Linked DNA regions of Homo sapiens: regions 1 and 3 are each linked to region 2. The links come from fine-mapping of genetic effects on gene expression. A gene starts in region 2. Each other region holds a variant in brackets. All regions are shown on one strand. Distances are from middle to middle.

Evidence for each region. PIP is the estimated chance that this variant, and not a neighbour inherited with it, causes the effect.
Region 1: its variant is fine-mapped to the expression of ITPK1 in whole blood (TOPMed, PIP above 0.99).
Region 3: its variant is fine-mapped to the expression of ITPK1 in thyroid (GTEx, PIP 0.93).

The regions. Positions count from the first base shown.
Region 1 is chr14:93,079,244-93,086,154 of GRCh38, reverse strand. The region is part of intron 2 of ITPK1 (inositol-tetrakisphosphate 1-kinase); the gene reads left to right. Among named protein-coding and RNA genes, the nearest start is that of ITPK1-AS1, 15 kb to the right of the region's middle. RefSeq lists an enhancer at 889-1,512. The variant C/T (reference allele first, on the strand shown) is at 2,491.
Region 2 is chr14:93,113,632-93,118,631 of GRCh38, reverse strand. ITPK1 (inositol-tetrakisphosphate 1-kinase) reads left to right here and starts at 2,707. Exons shown (of 11, transcript NM_014216.6): 1 at 2,707-2,860; 2 at 3,327-3,563. The coding sequence starts at 3,469.
Region 3 is chr14:93,089,090-93,094,458 of GRCh38, reverse strand. All of the region lies in intron 2 of ITPK1 (inositol-tetrakisphosphate 1-kinase), which reads left to right. Among named protein-coding and RNA genes, the nearest start is that of ITPK1, 24 kb to the left of the region's middle. RefSeq lists an enhancer at 1,780-2,287. The variant C/A (reference allele first, on the strand shown) is at 2,351.

The DNA.
Region 1 (6,911 bases), 33 kb after region 2:
AAGGGAGGGAAATGTCACGGGAATTTCTGCCTCCCTTCCTGCAGTAGCCTACCTTGCTCATTAGGCTGATACTAAATGACTTTGCATTCTTGGGATTAAGAAGCTGCTGTGAAGAGAACCAACTGAATCATTAGCCCTGAGGCTGGCTGGCTGACGGAGGAGGGGGAGTGGGGGTAGCGGGGAGGGGAGGAGGTGCTAGAACCAAGCCTGCCAGCACCCCCCACTACCTCCCTCTCCCAGCAGCCAACTCCCCTGCTTCCCACAATTTAGGTCCCATCCCTAATTAGGGGAAAGAAAAATTACCGCACCTGCAAGGGGATAGTAAAAGACTCAAAAACAATTTCAAGTCGAGAATTTCCACACTAAAAAGCGGGGATGTCGAGAGCCATTAAGGGAATAGATTTAACGTTTGTGATCAGCAAGAAGTCAGGATGATTCCTGATCTGAAGTGGTGGCCCCTTGGATGTGGCAGAACACTGCCTTGCGTGATCTCCTGCCCTCGCCTCACTTCCTCCTTCCTGAAAATTGAACTGAGGAGGGGAGTCTCAAAGGCACCTCAGTTCCTGTGCTGCTTTCAGCCCCTGCAGCTCTGATGACCTCTCCGGGAGGTGCCAAAGGTGGGTCACCCACTCTGTCTCTCTCTTGTGCCTGTTCACTGGGAAAAGCTGCTTCCAGGCACCCCTGGAAGCTGTTCTGGGTCTGAGGGAGTGTACTGACTCAGGCTGCTGTGCCTGCACTGAGGGGCGCCCGGACTTTGGGGCCGGCCTGCCTCCCCTGGGTGGGGCACCCGGTCGGGGGGAGGGTCTTCAGGTAAGGTGGTTGGTGACTCCCCAGTCAAAGGAAAGATGCCCCCACTCAATAAAAAAGACACATGGCAGCTTCCAGTTTATCTGGTTCTTCCCTAGAGCTGTCCAGACAATTCAAATGTTTGTACTGGCTTTAAAATTCTGTTCGTATGTTGTCTTTATATCGGGCCATTTCAGTTTCTGGCACTGTTAATAGGAGGAAAATCCAAATTACCAAACAATCAGCAAGTAAACCAAGATGCCGCAGGGCAGGCGGGCAGGGGTGACACGGGGCTGGAGCCTGGCCCAGGAACCCGGCAGCACTCGGGGAGTGTTTGCAGAGAGCCTGCCAGGCCCAGGGTCTGCAGGGGGCACAGGGATGCTGAAATAAAGAGCCATCTTTGGCCTCGAGGGGCTCATGGTCTGATGCTGAGCATGGAGCAGGCTTCAGTGGAAGCCATTATTCCTGCCTCTTGATGAGGAAGGCACTTGAGCTGCTCTTGGTGGGTGGGCAGGAGTTTGCCAGCTGAGGAAGGGTGCCTGGCAGGGGGATCAGTTTGTGCAAAGGCAGACTTAGGTCAAGCCTTGGCATTTGGAGATTGGGGTCCCTCCTGGGAGGGTTTGAGAGGCTGCTGCTGCCTCCCCCTCGTGTCTTCTGAGCTGCACCTCCAAATGCCCATGTGGCAGGTGTTTTGCTAAGAATTTGGGGCTGTGGACACAGGGCACAAGCTGTGTCCCTGAAAGAGTGCTTGTTAGTCAGGATAGGCCAGGTTAGGCTGCAGTGACAAGTAGTGTCGAAAGGCTGGCGGAAATAGGTTTACTCACAACTCATTCAGCATGCACTCTGGATCCAGAGACTCTCGGGGGCTGTGGTCTGCCCTGCAGTGGCTCAGTGTGTATCCCACTTCTTAAGTTCAGCACTGTGGACCTTTTGTGCTGGATAATTCTTTGTTTTAGGGGGCTGTCCTCTGCATTACAGGGGCCCTTTCCTCACTGGATTCTAGTAGCACTTTCCTCGGTGTGACAATCAAAAAGCTCTTCAGGTGTTGCTAAATCTCCTTGTGGGGGACACACAGTTGCCCATAGTTGGGAACCAGCGCTAGCTGGAGGTCCTCTTCATCAGTTGTTTCTTTCTGGTTCCCAGCCTGGCTTCGTCGCCACTCAGCCCGCGTTGTTTCCAGGTGGCGGGTCTGGCTGGCTCTGCTGGTGGGTGGCAGCCTCATGTGCTTCCTTGTTTCTGAGGTCAGGGAGGCCTCGGTGCTGGCAGTGGAATGCTTTTTCCAGGAGGGGACATGGTCACCTCTGTTCACATCTCATTGCCCAAGGCAAGTCCTGTGGCCATGCCTGACTGGGGGCAGGGACAACACAGTGGCACTGAGTGTCCAGGAGGGAAATTGCCGGCTTTGATGGCCACCATTGATGTTCACCACCGAGCATTAGCCTGGTGGGGTCAGTGCAATGGAGTCCAGCAGCCTTTCTCTCTGCCCAGTGCTGGGTGTGGGCAGCTTGGGGCAGTGGGGCCTGAGGAGGGTGGGAGCCAAGGCAGGTTTCTCCAGAGGAGCTGACCTGGGGGGTCAGGTGGTGATGTGGGGATGGCATTTGAGGAAGGGAACAGTGTGGCCATCAACACACATGGGTGACGGGGCTTAGTCATCTGTTTAGGAGCCCCAAGTCCTGGGGAGACATCCTGGGCTTCTGTGGGGTA[C/T]GGTGTGGGCCCTGCCCTCTGCAGGCAGGGAAAGGGGACCATAACTTGGGGCTTTTTCCCCAGTGCCTGGTACCTGGAGGTGCCAAAGGGTCTTGTTATTTGGGGTGCCTGAAATCAGTAGTTACTGAACTGTGCCACACGTTGCTTGGATGAGGATGTGCCTGGCTTCCCACTTCCCCGAGTTGTTCTCCGTAGAACCTTCCTCCCTTGCTTCTTCACCATTTCATGTACTTCACTTGCTGCAGCGCTCAGGTCCCCACCCTGCCCTGGGGAGGGCCTCTTGGGTGGGAAAGGTCATATCCTTTTAACGGATATGAAAGCTGAGACCCCGAGCGGCTCAGCAGCACATCCCATGCCTGCTGCTGGTCATGGTCCCTGAGCCTTTTGTGCCCTGCTGTGCTGTGTGGCAGGCCTGCTGCTGGATGGGGTCTGTCATCCCAGAGTGTCTTGTGTTAACCTCCTGACGCCACACCTGGTACTGTGCTGCAGTGGCTTGGTGGTGGCGTGGATGCCGTGGACGTGTCTCTGCTCCTCATCACTCTTTTCTACTTCTGCCCTGATCATCTTTATTGTTTTCCCTTATCATCCCCTCTCCCTCAGTGCTGGGTCATCCAGAGTAATTTTCATCATCTTCAGAAGTGGTAACCACTGTCACTCACAGGGTCCCTGCTGCTCAGCGGCCAGCGACAGAAAGCTTTAGCTGGCTTGAGCAGAAATCTGCAGCTGAAGGTCTAGAGAGGACGAGCCCCACTGCGGCCGGGTCTGGCCGGGGAATTTGCCCTCCTGGAGCCCTCTTGGCCCTTTCTCCTGGTTGGCCTCTGGCTCATCTGGATTCTCGCCACATAGAAGCAATGGTGTCCTCCAGCATTTCCAGGCAGTGCCATTTGTACTGCAGACAGTCCCCCAGGACCCGTCCGGTAAAGGACCAGGACCGGCTTGGCTTGGGTCCTGCTCCCATGCTGCTGCTAAGTGAGGTGACAGGTCATGTGCCCACCCCTGGAGTGGGCGTGCCGCCCCCAGTCATGTGGACTGGAGGAGGCAGTTCTGGAAGGGTAGGAAGGCAGGGTGGCAGGGCAGAGTGCAGGTCACAAGACCCCCATCCCTGGCATGAGCCAGGTACTGTGCCAGGCCTGGACTCTGTTTCCCTTAAAGCCCGTGTGGGATGAGTTCTAGGATTCTCCCATTTTACAGATAAGAAAACAGAGGCACAAGGTACAGGGGGGTCTGGTTCCATGTTCTGCTCTCAGGGGCTCACCCACCTCTTCCGCTCCTGCCTACGCCCCCGAATTGTGTTCATCTAAGCCTCTGAATGCTGCGAAGCTCAGTCCTGGGCTTCTAACCACTTCCTGGCACCACCACGGTTGAAAAGTGGACTGCTGCTGCCTTCTTGCAGTGTTCTCTCGTCTCCTGGGCCTGGCGCAGGGCCTCAGTCTGCTCCTTCCAGACTGTGAGCGTCACAACTATTTCTGGTTCTTAGGTTTCCTTTACCCTTTTCCCAAGACCTGCAAGGGCTGCCCCCCACCCCACCCCTGCTATGTCCTCCCCTAGCAAATCAGATCCTGCTTCCACTGGTCACAGAGAAGCACATGGAGTCGCTCTTGTGGACAAGCAGCTGTCCCCATACCCAGCTGCTCCTGAGCAACACCCGGAGTGCGATGAACCCTGAATCCTTCCCAGGCCCTGCCCTAGGCCTCCTGGATCAGAGGCCTCAGGGTGGGCCTCGAATGAGGATTTTTGACACGCTCCAGTGGTGGTTCTCAGGTTATCTGCCCTGGCATTTGGGACCCACTGGCCCATAGGTAAAGGCTGGGCCACAGGGTGACATCCTGGGCCTCTGAGGCGTGCCCCACCTTTATCCTCTGTCCTGCGTCTCAGCCCCCGCCCCCTGAGAGGGCTTTAAGCTTCCAGAGCCCCAGACACCCTTTGGGGAGGGCGCAGGACTCACCTTACTCCTCTCTAAGTACTCTTCTCAGCACCGGTCTGTAGTTACCCTTCAGTTGCTCTGCCAGATGGCAAATGCTGCCTCCTCTTTGAAGCCTTCCTTTATTGCCAGCCTCCTCCTCTGAAAGGATCGAATCATTTTGTGAGTATTTTCACTTCCTGAAGGGTTCGTGCTCCTTGGACTTCTGGGGACAGGCTTCCCTGTGCAAAGCGGATCATCCCTTTGTTAATAATCCAGCTTTTGGAAAAGCATGTTTATACTTAGCTATTCCTATTTTATTAATATTCATATTAATATATTGTATTTATATATTAGTGTAATATTTATCAATACAATGACAGTTTAGAGCCTGTAAAATTATTCGCAGGTGCAGGTTTTGTGTTTTTTTTGAGACGGCATCTCGCTCTGTTGCCCAGGCTGGAGTGCAGTGGCACGATCTTGGCTCACTGCAACCCCCGCCTCCTGGGTTAAAGCAATTCTCCTGCCTCAGCCTCCCAAGTAGCTGGGATTACAGGCACCTGCTGTTATGCCCAGCTAATTTTTATATTCTTATAGAGACGAGGTTTTACCATGTTGGCCAGGCTGGTCTCGAACTCCTGACCTCAGGTGATTTGGGAGGCCCACCTCGGCCTCCCAAAGTGCTGGGATTACAGGCGTGAGCCACCATGCCCGGCTGCAGGTTTTTAATGAAACTTAAAAATTATTAAATTGTAGGCTGGGTGCAGTGGCTCAGCCTGTAATCCCAGCACTTTTGAGGTCAGGAGTTCAAGACCAGCCTGGCCAACATGGTGAAACCTTGTCTCTACTAAAAATACAAAAATTGGCTGGCATCATGGCAAATGCCTGTAGTCCCAGCTACTCGGGAGGCCGAAGCAGGAGAATTGCTTGAACCCAGGAGGCGGAGGTTGCAGTGAGCTGAGATCATGCCACTGTACTCCAGCCTGGGCGATAGAGCCAGACTCTGTCTCAAAAAAAAAAAATGTAACTTTTATTGTTACTTTCCCTATAGTTTTGAGGGTAGCGTATATGTTCATTGTAGAAAATCTGGAAAACACAGGGAAGTATGAAGGAAAAACCACAGCCCCGTGGCCACAGTTAACACTGCAGCACACGCACCTCAGTCTGTTTTCCAGGTATCGGAATGTTTCCACGGGCTTAGAACCCATAGCGAGTGCTGCAGCCTGGTGGTCCCCACTGCAGGCATCATTTCAGCTCCTCTTTGGGACAGCACTTGGAAGCTTTTCATGATACATCCTGAGCTCTGCTGTCTTGTGTCCTCCATTGATCGATTGCTTCGTGCTTTTATCAAGCATCTATTTAAGAAACAATTAAAAAATATATTTTCCAGTTTTTGATAACATGTTATAGGCACATGGCACAACATTGAAGCAATGTATGAGGGGACACAGTGAAAAGGAAGTCCCTCGGCCACCCCAGCTGCCCTTGCCCTTGACCAGGGGCCCTGCCATGATTGTTTTCCTGTAGCGCCCTCAGGTTCACTCTGTGTGTACACAAGCACACATGCTTGTCCTGGATGTTGTTCTTAACACAGATAATTATCTACAGCACACAGGGTTTTGCATCTTACCTGTTTCACACAGCAACGTCTTGGAGATAATTCCTCGTGGGTGCATGGAGGCCTTCTGTGTTCTTTTTTACTGCTGCATACTATTCCTTTGACTGTGTGTGGTTTGTTAATGTCCCCTCTTGGGGGAAGTTTAATTTGCTGCTAGTGTTTTGCTATCACATACAGTTTGGTAATTAACAGGGCAGAGCCGGAAACATATTGCACACTTGAGCCTGTCTGTGGGGTGATGAGGTGGGATCATGGAGCCAGGGTTTTCAGGAGGAACAGTCACTTGACAACCAATGCTCTGATTTGTGTTCCCTCCTCCTGTCTCCCATGTCCCTTCCTTCTCCCTCTTCCCCTTTGGCTTCATCATTCAATTTCTGAACTTTCTGGTTATGGCAGGACTTTAGGAACTTGCTTCTTGGGGAATCGAGGTTGTTGGTGCCTTTGCTCTGCACGAGTTTCCCAGTGAAAAATGAGCCCCGACAGGTTGTTTTATTTTCCCGAGAGGCTGTGGTGGTGCATGTGGGATTCCACCACCAGAGGGGATGCAGTTTTCCGCTGCCACCTCCTGGTCCTTCCATTGCACTGAGGCCCTGGAGGCTGGAGACCAGGCCTTCCAGCTTGGTGCCACCCTTGCCCACGGTGGTGCACCTGGTGGTGAACACGTGGGTGTGGGGAGAGCCCTGTTCCGGGCCAGCTCCTGCACTTCCTGAGTCTCCCAGGCCTCGGCCTGCTCTGCAGGTAATGGGGTAACCACTGTCCCACCCTCATGAGGCTGCAGAAGGTATTGGTGAGTGGTGAGCTTCAAGGGGTGTGTAGCATACGTGGGTGGCCCCCTCTTTTCTGCCACTGTTGCAACTTATCCTTTTTTTGGAGCTCTGAGCGACAGAGGAACTGCTGTGGCTC
Region 2 (5,000 bases):
CTTCATCCAGCTCCTGTTCAGAAGTGACCACACACACACTGTCTTCAGCATCCCTCCCAAGTTCCCCTGGTCCATTTCTCAGGCCTCATCTTCCTGCCCATCTCCATCTTACCGTGCCCTTATTTACGGTGTTCTTCCCTTTTCACCCTCTGAAACTTCGCACCTGTTTTCGCCTTTGCCTGGAATGTTGCCTCCTTCCCCCACTGAACTCCTTCCTACTCATCCTTCAAGATCCTATGCCACAGTCTCCCCAGTCATGCAGCAAAATGGGACAGATTGCCATCTTCCTTCCCATTTCCCTCTCAGCTCTCACCCCACGTTTCCTTTTTTCTTTCTTTTTTTTGTTTTTGAGATGGAGTTTTGCCCTTGCCGCCCAGGCTGGAGTGCAATGGCGCGACCTCGGCTGACCGCAACCTCCGCCTCTCTGGTTCAAGCGATTCTCCTGCCTCAGCCTCCCAAGTAGCTGGGATTACAGGCATGCGCCACCATGCCCACCTAATTTTGTATTTTTAGTAGAGATGGGGTTTCTCCATGTTGGTCAGGCTGGCCTCGAACTCCTGATCTCAGGTGATCCGCCTGCTTCGGCCTCCCAGCGCCCAGCCTCATCCCGTGTTTCTAATCAATGGCTTGTGTCCATTTTCCTCTGCCACACACTGGGCTCTCGTGTGTTTGCCAAAGGAGTGAGGGAATTCCAGGAACCCTCCTGAACCACCCAGCCTCAACTGGTCTTTCAGTTCCTAAGAACAGCAGGACATTTAAAGTCGATGCCTGTAATCCCTACTGCTGACTTCAAGTATCAAGTTTATAGTTGCTGCCCCCATCCCCTTCGTTTTTACTCCCTTAGCCGCCTTCTTTTTTTTTTTTTTTTTTTGAGACGGAGTCTCACTCTGTTGCCCAGGCTAGAGTGCAGTGGCACGATCTCAGCTCACTGCCAGCTCTGCCTCCCAGGTTCACGCCATTCTCCTGCCTTAGCCTCCCAAGTAGCTGGGACTACAGGCGCCCGCCACCACGCCCGGCTAATTTTTTGTATTTTTAGTAGAGACAGGGTTTCACCGTGTTAGCCAGGATGATCTCAATCTCCTGACCTCATGATGTGCCCACCTCGGCCTCCCAAAGTGCTGGGATTACAGGCATGAGCCACCATGCGCAGCCTCCCTTAGCCTTCTTTTATCCATCTTGTGCCTCGGCCCTAGGGGTCCTTGCTATGATCTTCCCTTTATCCAGCTTTCCATGTCCCCCCCAGGAGCCAGGCATTCTAAGCCACAGAGCTGACCCTGGAACCTGTCACCACTTACCTTCTAGGCTCCCATGGCCTATGAAACTCGCAGTACCCTTGCCTAAGGCATGCAGTGCCCGTCCCTAGCTGGCCCCCTGGAGGAGTCCTGTTTCCCACCCATCGTCTTTTCCACTCTCCATCCATCCGTTTTCTCTACCTTGTTAAAGAAAAAAACTAATCAGATTCTCGTTAAAGATGGCAGGGAAGCCAGGCGGGGTGGCTCAGGTCTACAATCCCAGCACTTTGGGAGGCCCAGGTGGGAGGACAGCTTGAGGCCAGGAGTTCGAGACCTGCCTGGGCAACACAGTGTAGTCCCAGCTGCTCGGGAGGCTGAGGTGGGAGGATCAGTTTAGCAGGGGTGTTCGAGGCTGCAGTGAGCTATGACTGCACCATTGCACTCCAGCCTGGGCAGCATAGAGAGATCCTTGTCTTTCTTTTTTTTTTGAGACGGAGTTTCTTAATGTAGGCCGGCCAGGGTGATCACATACCAAGCGTGGAGATATTCTTGACAGCAGGATTCTGGCTAAAACTGGACTAAGAAGGCCAAGGACAGAGCCCAAGGTCGGGGCCTGGTCAGAAAGAGGTCTCGGAGGAGCCTGACTCAAGTGTGATCAAGGGAAGTCTTGGTCACCCGCTGGCAACTTGGCTTTTTCTTGTCTCCCAGCCTCAATTCAAGCTCATCCCCCTTCCCTGCTCCATCAAAATCTCCTTGATTTCCAAGGCCAGCTTCAGTGTCTCCTCTCAAACTTTTCTGAGCCTTCCCTCCACGGGAATCCATTTTTCCTGCCTGGGCCTGGGGAGAGAAGTCCATTTCTCCTTCCCAAACCCAGAGACCATTGAGGCAGGAAAGCTCCCTGGCTGCCCCATAGGGCAGGGCAGGGTAGGCGGGGTTTAGTGACTCCCCGGCGCCGACGCTGACCCGCACCCCTGAGGAAGGGGTCTCCGGGGACGGCCGCTGTTGTCGCTGTCGCCTCCAGTCCCCGCCCCTTCCCCCCTCAGTGAAGGGGACCTAGAGTGAGAACTGGTGGTCACGTCCTACGCCTAGGAGGGCCCCTGGGTGTTCACCCACCCCCCCGGGGGGCCCCATCCTGGGCCAGGGTCCGCTTCCTCGAGGGAAGGGGCGAATTCCTGGAAGGTCTCCTTCCGGGCGCAGTTGCAATGGATTGCCTTGGGGGTGCTGAACCCTGCTGGGGGTACAGAGACGTTTCCGAAACTCAGCGGCTCGGTCGCCCCCAAAGGCCAGGCGGAACACACGCCCACACCGCGGCTCCCTTCCCGAAGTAAGACCGCCGGGCCACGGCCGCCCCCAGGAAGCCCCGCGCCCCGCACCCCACACCCGGGGACACAAACAGGCGCCGGGTAGCCGCGAGGGCCGGCGCGGCGCCTTTAAGAGGCGGCGGGCGGCGCTGCCCCCTGGCGGCCGCCCCGCCGCTTCCTCGCCGCCGCGGGCTCAAGCGGGGCGGCCGGGCCAGCGCGGGGCGGCGGCGGGCAGGGGCGGCGAGTGCGCGGGCGCTCGCCGCCGCCCTTCTCGGCGGGCAGCGCGCGAGGACCAGGCCGAGGAGGAAGTGGCGGCGGCGGCGGCGGGTGAGGATCTCTGGCCGGGCCGAGTGGCCGCGTGCGCCCCGCCGGGGTCCAAGCGCGCCCAGGGGTTACGGCCCGGCTGGGAACATCAGAGGGCGAGGACCCGGGCGGGAGGAGGAGGGAGGAAGGGCTCGGAGGCCGCGCTTCTGCCGCCGCCTGAGGGCGTGTGGCTCGGGCCCGCGCGGCGGGAGGGCGGGCAGGGCGGGGGCGGTGTCTGCGGAGGCCCGGCTTCCCCTCCTGCGGGCCCTGGCCCCAGCTCCGACTCAGACTCAGGCTCAGCCGTGCCCCAGCCTCAGCCGGCAGGCCGGGCGGCGCGGCGCTCGCGAGCCGGTGGGCGGGCGGGCGAGCCCGCAGGCGGCGGGGGCGTGGGCGGTGGCAGCTTGGCCCAGCCAGTGGCCTTCCGCGCTGAGCGCCGCTCCCTCCTCCCGGCCGCCCGCCGCGCCCCGCCCCGCTCCGCTCCGCGCGGCAGGACTGCGCGCCCCAGCTCCGATCCCCGTTCCGCGTCCCCGCCGCCGGGAGGAGGTGCCCACTCGCTCGCGGCGCGCGCCGGCCGCCAGACTCGGCCTGTGGGCGATTTCCTCCGGACCCAGGCTCCCCGCCCGAGGAGGAAGATGCAGACCTTTCTGAAAGGGAAGAGAGTTGGCTACTGGCTGAGCGAGAAGAAAATCAAGAAGCTGAATTTCCAGGCCTTCGCCGAGCTGTGCAGGTAAGGAGGGACGCGGCGCCGGCGCCCGGGGACCCCCGGCCCGAGCCCGGTGACCCCCGGCCCGAGCCCGGTGCAGCCTCATTAGTTGTTTTGGGAGATCGGAGCCAAACGGGAAGAAGCGGCGCGCGGGGAGACTGAGTCCGAGCAGCCAGGTGGCGGTGGCGGCCGCCGGCCGCGTTCCAGGGAAGCGGTGGCCGGTGCGGGCGAGGTGGCACGGACCGGGGCGTTCAGGTGCACTGTGACCCGGCTGGGGAGGCCCCCAGCAGCCCAGGGCGCGGTGGGAGTTCTACTGAGGGTTGCGGAGGGACCTGGGAAATCGGGGCATCCACGCTGTGGGGTAAGGGCTTGAGGGTACTTTTGGACCGGAGTGTTTTTCTTCCTTCGTCCCCTTCCCTTTCATGAAGAAAGGGCACCCACGTTTGTGGACCACCTACTATGTGCCCCGCGTGTGCTCGGCTCTTGAGGCTGTCATTGCATATCATGAGGTTAAGCCCAGTTGAAGCGAGTAGCAATTCTTGGCATGTATGTGGTGATTTGCTGTCTCATTAGAGCCTCGCAGCAGCCCTGCAAATTGGCCAGGGTGGTGATTCTGGGCCACCTGTCTGAGAACGGGGACCGATCGGCAGAGGAGCGGGGTACCTAGCTTGGGGTCCCGCAGCTAGGGAGTGGCTGGTGCGTAGAAAGTGCTGGGTAAATGCCCGTGGTGTGGAGTGGCCTTCTGCCATCTGGGCTGTGTGCCCCTGCTCCCACCATGCTGGTGCTCCTTGGCGGAGTCTCCGGTGTTTAACAGATCACGTTCTTAATAAATTACAGAACTACTGAGTCTTGGGTCAGGTAGGCCTTCCCTTGCTCCACAACTGTAGCTTTGCCTCTGAGAAGCAGTTAAGCCCTTTTCTCAATGCAAGCCTAAGAGAATCTAGCTCTGAAAGCCTTTTGCAAACTCCAGGTGGAAACCTTTTGTGATGCAGCTTGTTAGACTGATTTTTGAAAATGGGCTCTACTTGCATTTTTGTCCCTGTGGGGGCCCCACACATCTTGGAGAATTGAACAGTTGGGTTTCCGTAACCCCTGGTGCTCCTGGGGGCCCGTGGCTGGTCTGAGCTGGCATGCGCAGGTGAGCCTGGCAGCACCTCTGTGTGCCTCATGCCTTTCCCAAGGGCCTGCTGCTCCTTTGCCCCGTGCAAGCCCCGCAGGCGCTCTTCCTGCAGCCAGAGGGGCACAGCTTGTACAGGATAGTGCCTGGTTCTTTATCCCTTGGTCTGGGGATGGGGTTGGCTGCCTTCTCCCAGGCCGGTTTCCCTAGAAGACAGGCTCTTCATGATCAATAGGGCATGCAGAGTGGCCCCAGCAATTCATGAAGAAATCAGGAGGAGCTCGAAGCCAGAGCTTTGAAAATGAGTCTTAGGACCCTTGGAACATTACAAAAGGGTACTTGAA
Region 3 (5,369 bases), 24 kb after region 2:
TCCTTGGTGACTTAGCTGTATGGGTGGTGTGCAGCTGGCACTGCTTGCTGGTCTGGGGGAGACATCCTAGGCTGGCCTGTGGAGGACGTTCCCTCTCAGCCTCCTCTGAGCCATGGGCATAGGTGAGTTTTCAGAAAAGCCCATACCGACGGTGATTCAGCTCTGCTTCTTGCTTCCTTCTGTCTTATTCTTAAGTCACCCACAGGGCAGCCACCTGCCAGTGTCTGTCCTCCAATCCCCTGCTCCAAGGAACTGCTCTAGGCAGGGAAGAGAGAGGAGGAGGAGGCCCCGCATATCCTCGGGTAGAACGGAGGAGGAAACTGAGGCTCCTCACAGAGGTTAACTAACCTCTGCTAGACCACCCAGGTGTAAGAGCTGGGATGCCCCCAGACCCTCCCTTCTCCCGGGAGCGGTGGAGCCGAGGCGGTGGGGGCCTGGCTGGAGCGCCCCAGGAGCTGAGAGAAGTTTAGTCCACCTGGAGCTTGGCAATCGGGGTGAGGATCCCTTTGAGGCCGGGTTGCACAGGATCCTATAAGCCATCATTGTACACGCTTGGGCTTTGCCCTGAAGGCTGGGGGAGCCATAGCAGTTGTGTGAGGTTGGCTGCTGGGTGGAAGCCAGGGGCTTGTGGGATTGGAGGGGGAGGCTGCTGCGATTGTCCAGGCAGTGGTGGTCTAGATCGTGCAGTGGTGGTGGATATCAACTCTTCAGAGTCCATCCAGGTCTGAGGACTCATTAGCAACCTCGGCTATTCCTCGACTACTCAGGATGTTGTCTGTATGGGGCCGGTGGCCTCAGCACTCCTGGTTCCTCAGCATCGCCACGCCCTCTGTATCCACGGACTCAGAATCTGTGTTTTAACAAGACCCCCAAGAGGTGCCAGTACACACGGCACATTCATGTTTGCAAACACTGGTTTAGGGAACCTGTTGACCTCAGCGCAGGGCTGAGGGGGGAAGAAAGGACTGAGGTCAAGGCCTGACTTCATGAGGAAGGGGAGGTTGGGGAGCGGGGGAAGAGGAGATGATGTCGGAGCACTCAGACTTCTGACTGGGAGGAGGGCTACATCACCCCACGCCAGGGGCGGCTTGAGGACTAGTGCAGTTATAACACAAAGGGCCGAAACGGCCTGGCCGCTGGGGCAGGGCAGAGAGCTGGGCTCCACAGGGCAGCCTGCACACCCCATCTCTGCCCTTGGAGGCCCTAGAACCCTGTGGACCCTGTCCTTTGTCCTTTCTGCCGTGTCCATGTAGGTGTGGGTCGTGTCTGCCCCACAGGTTGGGTATTTGCCGTTGTGCTGTCAGCAGATGGGTGTTGAGCCCATGCAGGCCTGGACTTGGTCACAGAACGGCATCCTGCTTGTTGAGTAGCCATCCTGGTCATGAGGGGTCATGTGGTAATGAGTGTATGGAGAGCTGGGGGCGTCATTGTGAAGACCAAGTGAAGCAGCAGTCGGATCTGGGACAGAGGTTCCTCTAGGGAAAGACTATTATGGTCTGGGGCACCCTGGAGGCACGCGCCGTGGCTGGAGGGTGGGTGAGTCTGTGGCTGGTGGGTTCGGCTGAGGCAGGGGAGTGCGCTCTTCAGCCCAGCCCCCTGGCCTGGGCCCTGCCGTGCTGGAGTCTCCTGGTGCCTGGAGGCTGAGTCGAATGCAGTGGGGCTGGGCAGAGGGTGCCCTGGCTGTCGTGGGGTGGAAGCTTGGCTGACCCAGTGGACATCAGCCAGGACCACATTAGGCCCAGCTTTGGCTGGGTTCCCCACAGCTGTGCCCAACGGCATCCCTGGCCTCCACCTACTGGATGCCAGTACTACTCTCGTCTTCCAAGAATGTCTGCAGGTACTTCCAGATGTCCTCTGGGTGGGGGGTAAAATTGCTCCGTTGAGGGCCAGTGCTGGCTGAGGGTTCTTCATCATTCCCTTCTGGTCCCAGCCTGGCTGCACTGCCACCTGGCGAGCTCTGTTTCCAGGCAGTGGGTCAGGCCTGCTTTGGGGGCTGGCATGCTGTCCTCCCTCACCCATGTCAAGGCCCGTGTAGCCATGTGCTGACATGTGCTTGATGTGACCTGGGAGTCAGAGCGCCTGGCTTCCTGCTCCAGGCTTCCGTGGTGCCGTAAGGACCTCAGGTCTGGGGGTCAGGAGGCCTGGATGGAAAATCCTGGCACTCTGGTCCTTGTAGGGGACCCTGAGCCTCGATTTTGCATCTTTGGCGTGGGGCTGTGGTAGCCTTTCCATGGGTGCTGGTGGAGGCTGCGAATGCCAGTGTGCCCACCCTCCCCATGCTGGGCTTAGCGTGGGTGCCTGGTGACAGTGTGTTAATCTCCCCTTGACTTCTCTGTGACCTCAGATAAGT[C/A]CCTCTCAGTTCTGGGCCTTGCTTATAAAAGGGTTCTTGGGCTCTCTTCTGTGTAAAAAGTGGGGAATGAGGTGGAGAGCCTGGGGGACAGGGGAGTCATGGGGTTGGACACCGTGCCAGAGCCTGTGGTGCTTTAAAATCAAGGCTCAAACCCAGGGTCCTGAAGAGGGCCGAGCAGCAGCTGAGGTCCGAGTGCACCCGGCCTGCCAGTGCTGCCCAGGAGTGGCGCCTCCCGTCATCCCTCACGCCCAGCAAGGACCCAGTGTGACAAGAGCATGGAGTCTGGACCTGGCAGAGCTAGGTTTGCCTCCTTGCTCTTCTATGACTAGCTGCATGGCTCCTGGAGCCTGTCTGAGCTTCAGGTGCCACACCTGAAGACTGAGGTTAAATGGGAGGCGGGGAGGAGCTGGTGACACTGACTGGATGCCACTATGTGCCAGCCTCATTCATTCCACCCTCTGGCAGTGTCCTGAGTTACATGCCCAGCCACCGTGCTATTTTCCAGGCCGGAAAACCGAGGTGTAGAGCCCAGCACTCGGCGTAGGAGGCACACAGCAAGTGAAGCCATCCTTGTTGACATGAGCTGGTTGCTCTTGGCATTTGAGTCTGAATATCAAAGGCCCTGAAGATTAAAAAGAGAGAATGAAGAATGATGTGCCTGGTGCCTTCTTGGGAAGAGCCCGAGGCCAGCTGTGGAGGGGAGCAAGACTGGTTCTGGGCTGGGCTTCCTGGCCTGGTGCTTTCCTGGGCAGCTGGAAGTGCTTCTGTGGGAGCTGTCTGGCCCTGGCGCCGTTGTTGGCTTCATTATTTTTTGCCTGCAGGGGCCTGAGTATTCTGTACTGACGGGAAAACATTTGTTGGGCTGACGCTGTAATCACACCACAAGGGACACTTGAAATTATATCTGTATTTGGGAAGCTAATTTTAAAGAACTTTTTCTCTTCATAATTATATGCAATCAGCCAGCTAGTGTTATTGGGGATTCTCTTTTTCCCTCTTCAGCTGAGAGGCCATCTGCCTTCCTCTTCCTGCCTTTCCTTCCAGCACACGGTGAGCCATCTCCCTGGGAGAGGGACCACTGGCCCTTGGCTGCCTGCAAGCCCCAGGGAAACCTTTCCATGGTGATTGCGGAGGAAGGGATGAGGAGGAAGAGCAGGGGAGGATGATGGGGGCCTCTGGCTTGGCTACAGGATGAGTCCGTTTTCAAGACTGGAGGCGCAGGTTGGTGATGGAAATGATGGAGTGTAGCGTTTCGATTTGGACATTGAAGCAGCCAGGGCTCTTGTGAATGCAAGTGGCAGAAAATCCAATTCAGATGAGTTTAAGCAAAAAGAAAAAAAAAATACATTTCTTGGCCCAGGTAACCAAACTGGCACAGGAATAGTCTTATCCCTCAGGTCCCCAGACATTCCTCCTGTCCCTGGAGTTTTATTCCTCATCAGGAGGAATTTAGTTCCAGAAAACGCTGGCCAAAAAAAGAAAAGAAAAGCCCCCGTTGCCCACCCCCTGCAAATGGGGCTCATTCCTCTCTATCTTGAGCTCTGATCCTGACAAGTAGGGTTTCTCCAGGATGGTGGCTAGCACACCAGTCAGGGATACGGGCTGGACATTTAGGGTTGGCACGAAGTGGACTCTGTGGATTGTCCTTCACACGGGAGGCATTCAGGTCAGGAGAATATACCATGTGCTGGCCCTTCAGGTCTCGATCTGACCACCCTTTCCAACACCCTGGGTTCCTCTGTGTCCTTCCTCTTGGACCGCCCTCTGAGAGGATGGTGCGAGGAAGAGGCTTCCGTGTTGTGCATGGTAGGCAGGGATGGGGGCGTTCCAGGGGCGGACAGCATGGGCAGGTGGTCAGAAGTGTGAAAGAACCGACCTGTGGGGCACGGCAGGAAGCCCGGTGTGCTAGGAACAGATGGGGCGAGACTTGCTGGGTGAGGAGGTGTGCACCTGCTGCAGAGGCCCAAGTGGTGGGGGTGAGGGAAGCCCAGGGGGTGAGTCTGGGCAGGGGCTGGGGGGTGATGAGCCATGTTTCAGATGCAGAAGGTGCAGAGTGTGTGTGCAGGGACAGCAGGGAGACCGCCTGGTGGCCTGCACCGCAGAGCTGTGTGTCTCAGGGAGTGGGAAGCCCTGCCTGTGCTGGCCTCAGTTCTTCCGCTCTTCTGGAATTCTGCATCCTTCTTTTGACATTTCTCTCTAATGCCCAGGGTCCTGGCTCTTGGCTTTGGCTTGGTGGCAGCTGTGACCCCCTGCATGGGGCTCTGAGGGATTATTCCAGCTGTTTGGGGACTGTAGCCATGGCTCCCAGCTGCAGAGCCTGACAGGCCTGGAGGCCGGCAGGAAGAAGATGGGGGCTGTGCCCGCCTGCCGAGAGCTGGCTCTGAGACTGACTCTTGGCACTGGGGTCCTCTGAGGCCCCAGGCTCATTCTCACCTCCTCCAGAGACCCAGCTGACATACCATTCTCATGAGCTGCAGTCCTGTGACCCAGCTGATTTCTGTCTCATTGGTGGAACCCTTTAGAGGTGGGGTAGGGCTCCTAAAACATTAGCCCTACTGCCTTCCCCACAGATTGGCCTCTCTTCCCTGCCTGTGGGCATCTGGCATCTGCTTGAATCCTTCTTGTCACGGGGTGCTCATCACCTCTTGACTGCCTTCCTATGGAAGCCAGCAACCTCTTCCTATGGTTGAGCTGAAATCTACTTCATAGGAAGGGTTCCTTCTGCCTGGAAGGTTTGATATTGGACAGGACTGTCAACCGTGTGGAGAGGGGAGGAACAGGGTGCTGGCTCCCCCGGCTTCTGGGCTGGATTGACCCAGGGCGTGTCTACCCCACAGCATCCTGACATGCCAGAGGCTGGACCTTAGGAAGTGCCTTCCGGGCCCTTCACTGCAGGCCTGCTCAGGGGCTGCTCCTCAGGTCTTGGGGCCCCTGGGGCAATGGCATCCATCCTTTTGGCCTCCTGGGGTCAAGGTTCTGAGGGAGGATTAGGGCAGCAGGTGGTTGGGTGGAGAGGCAG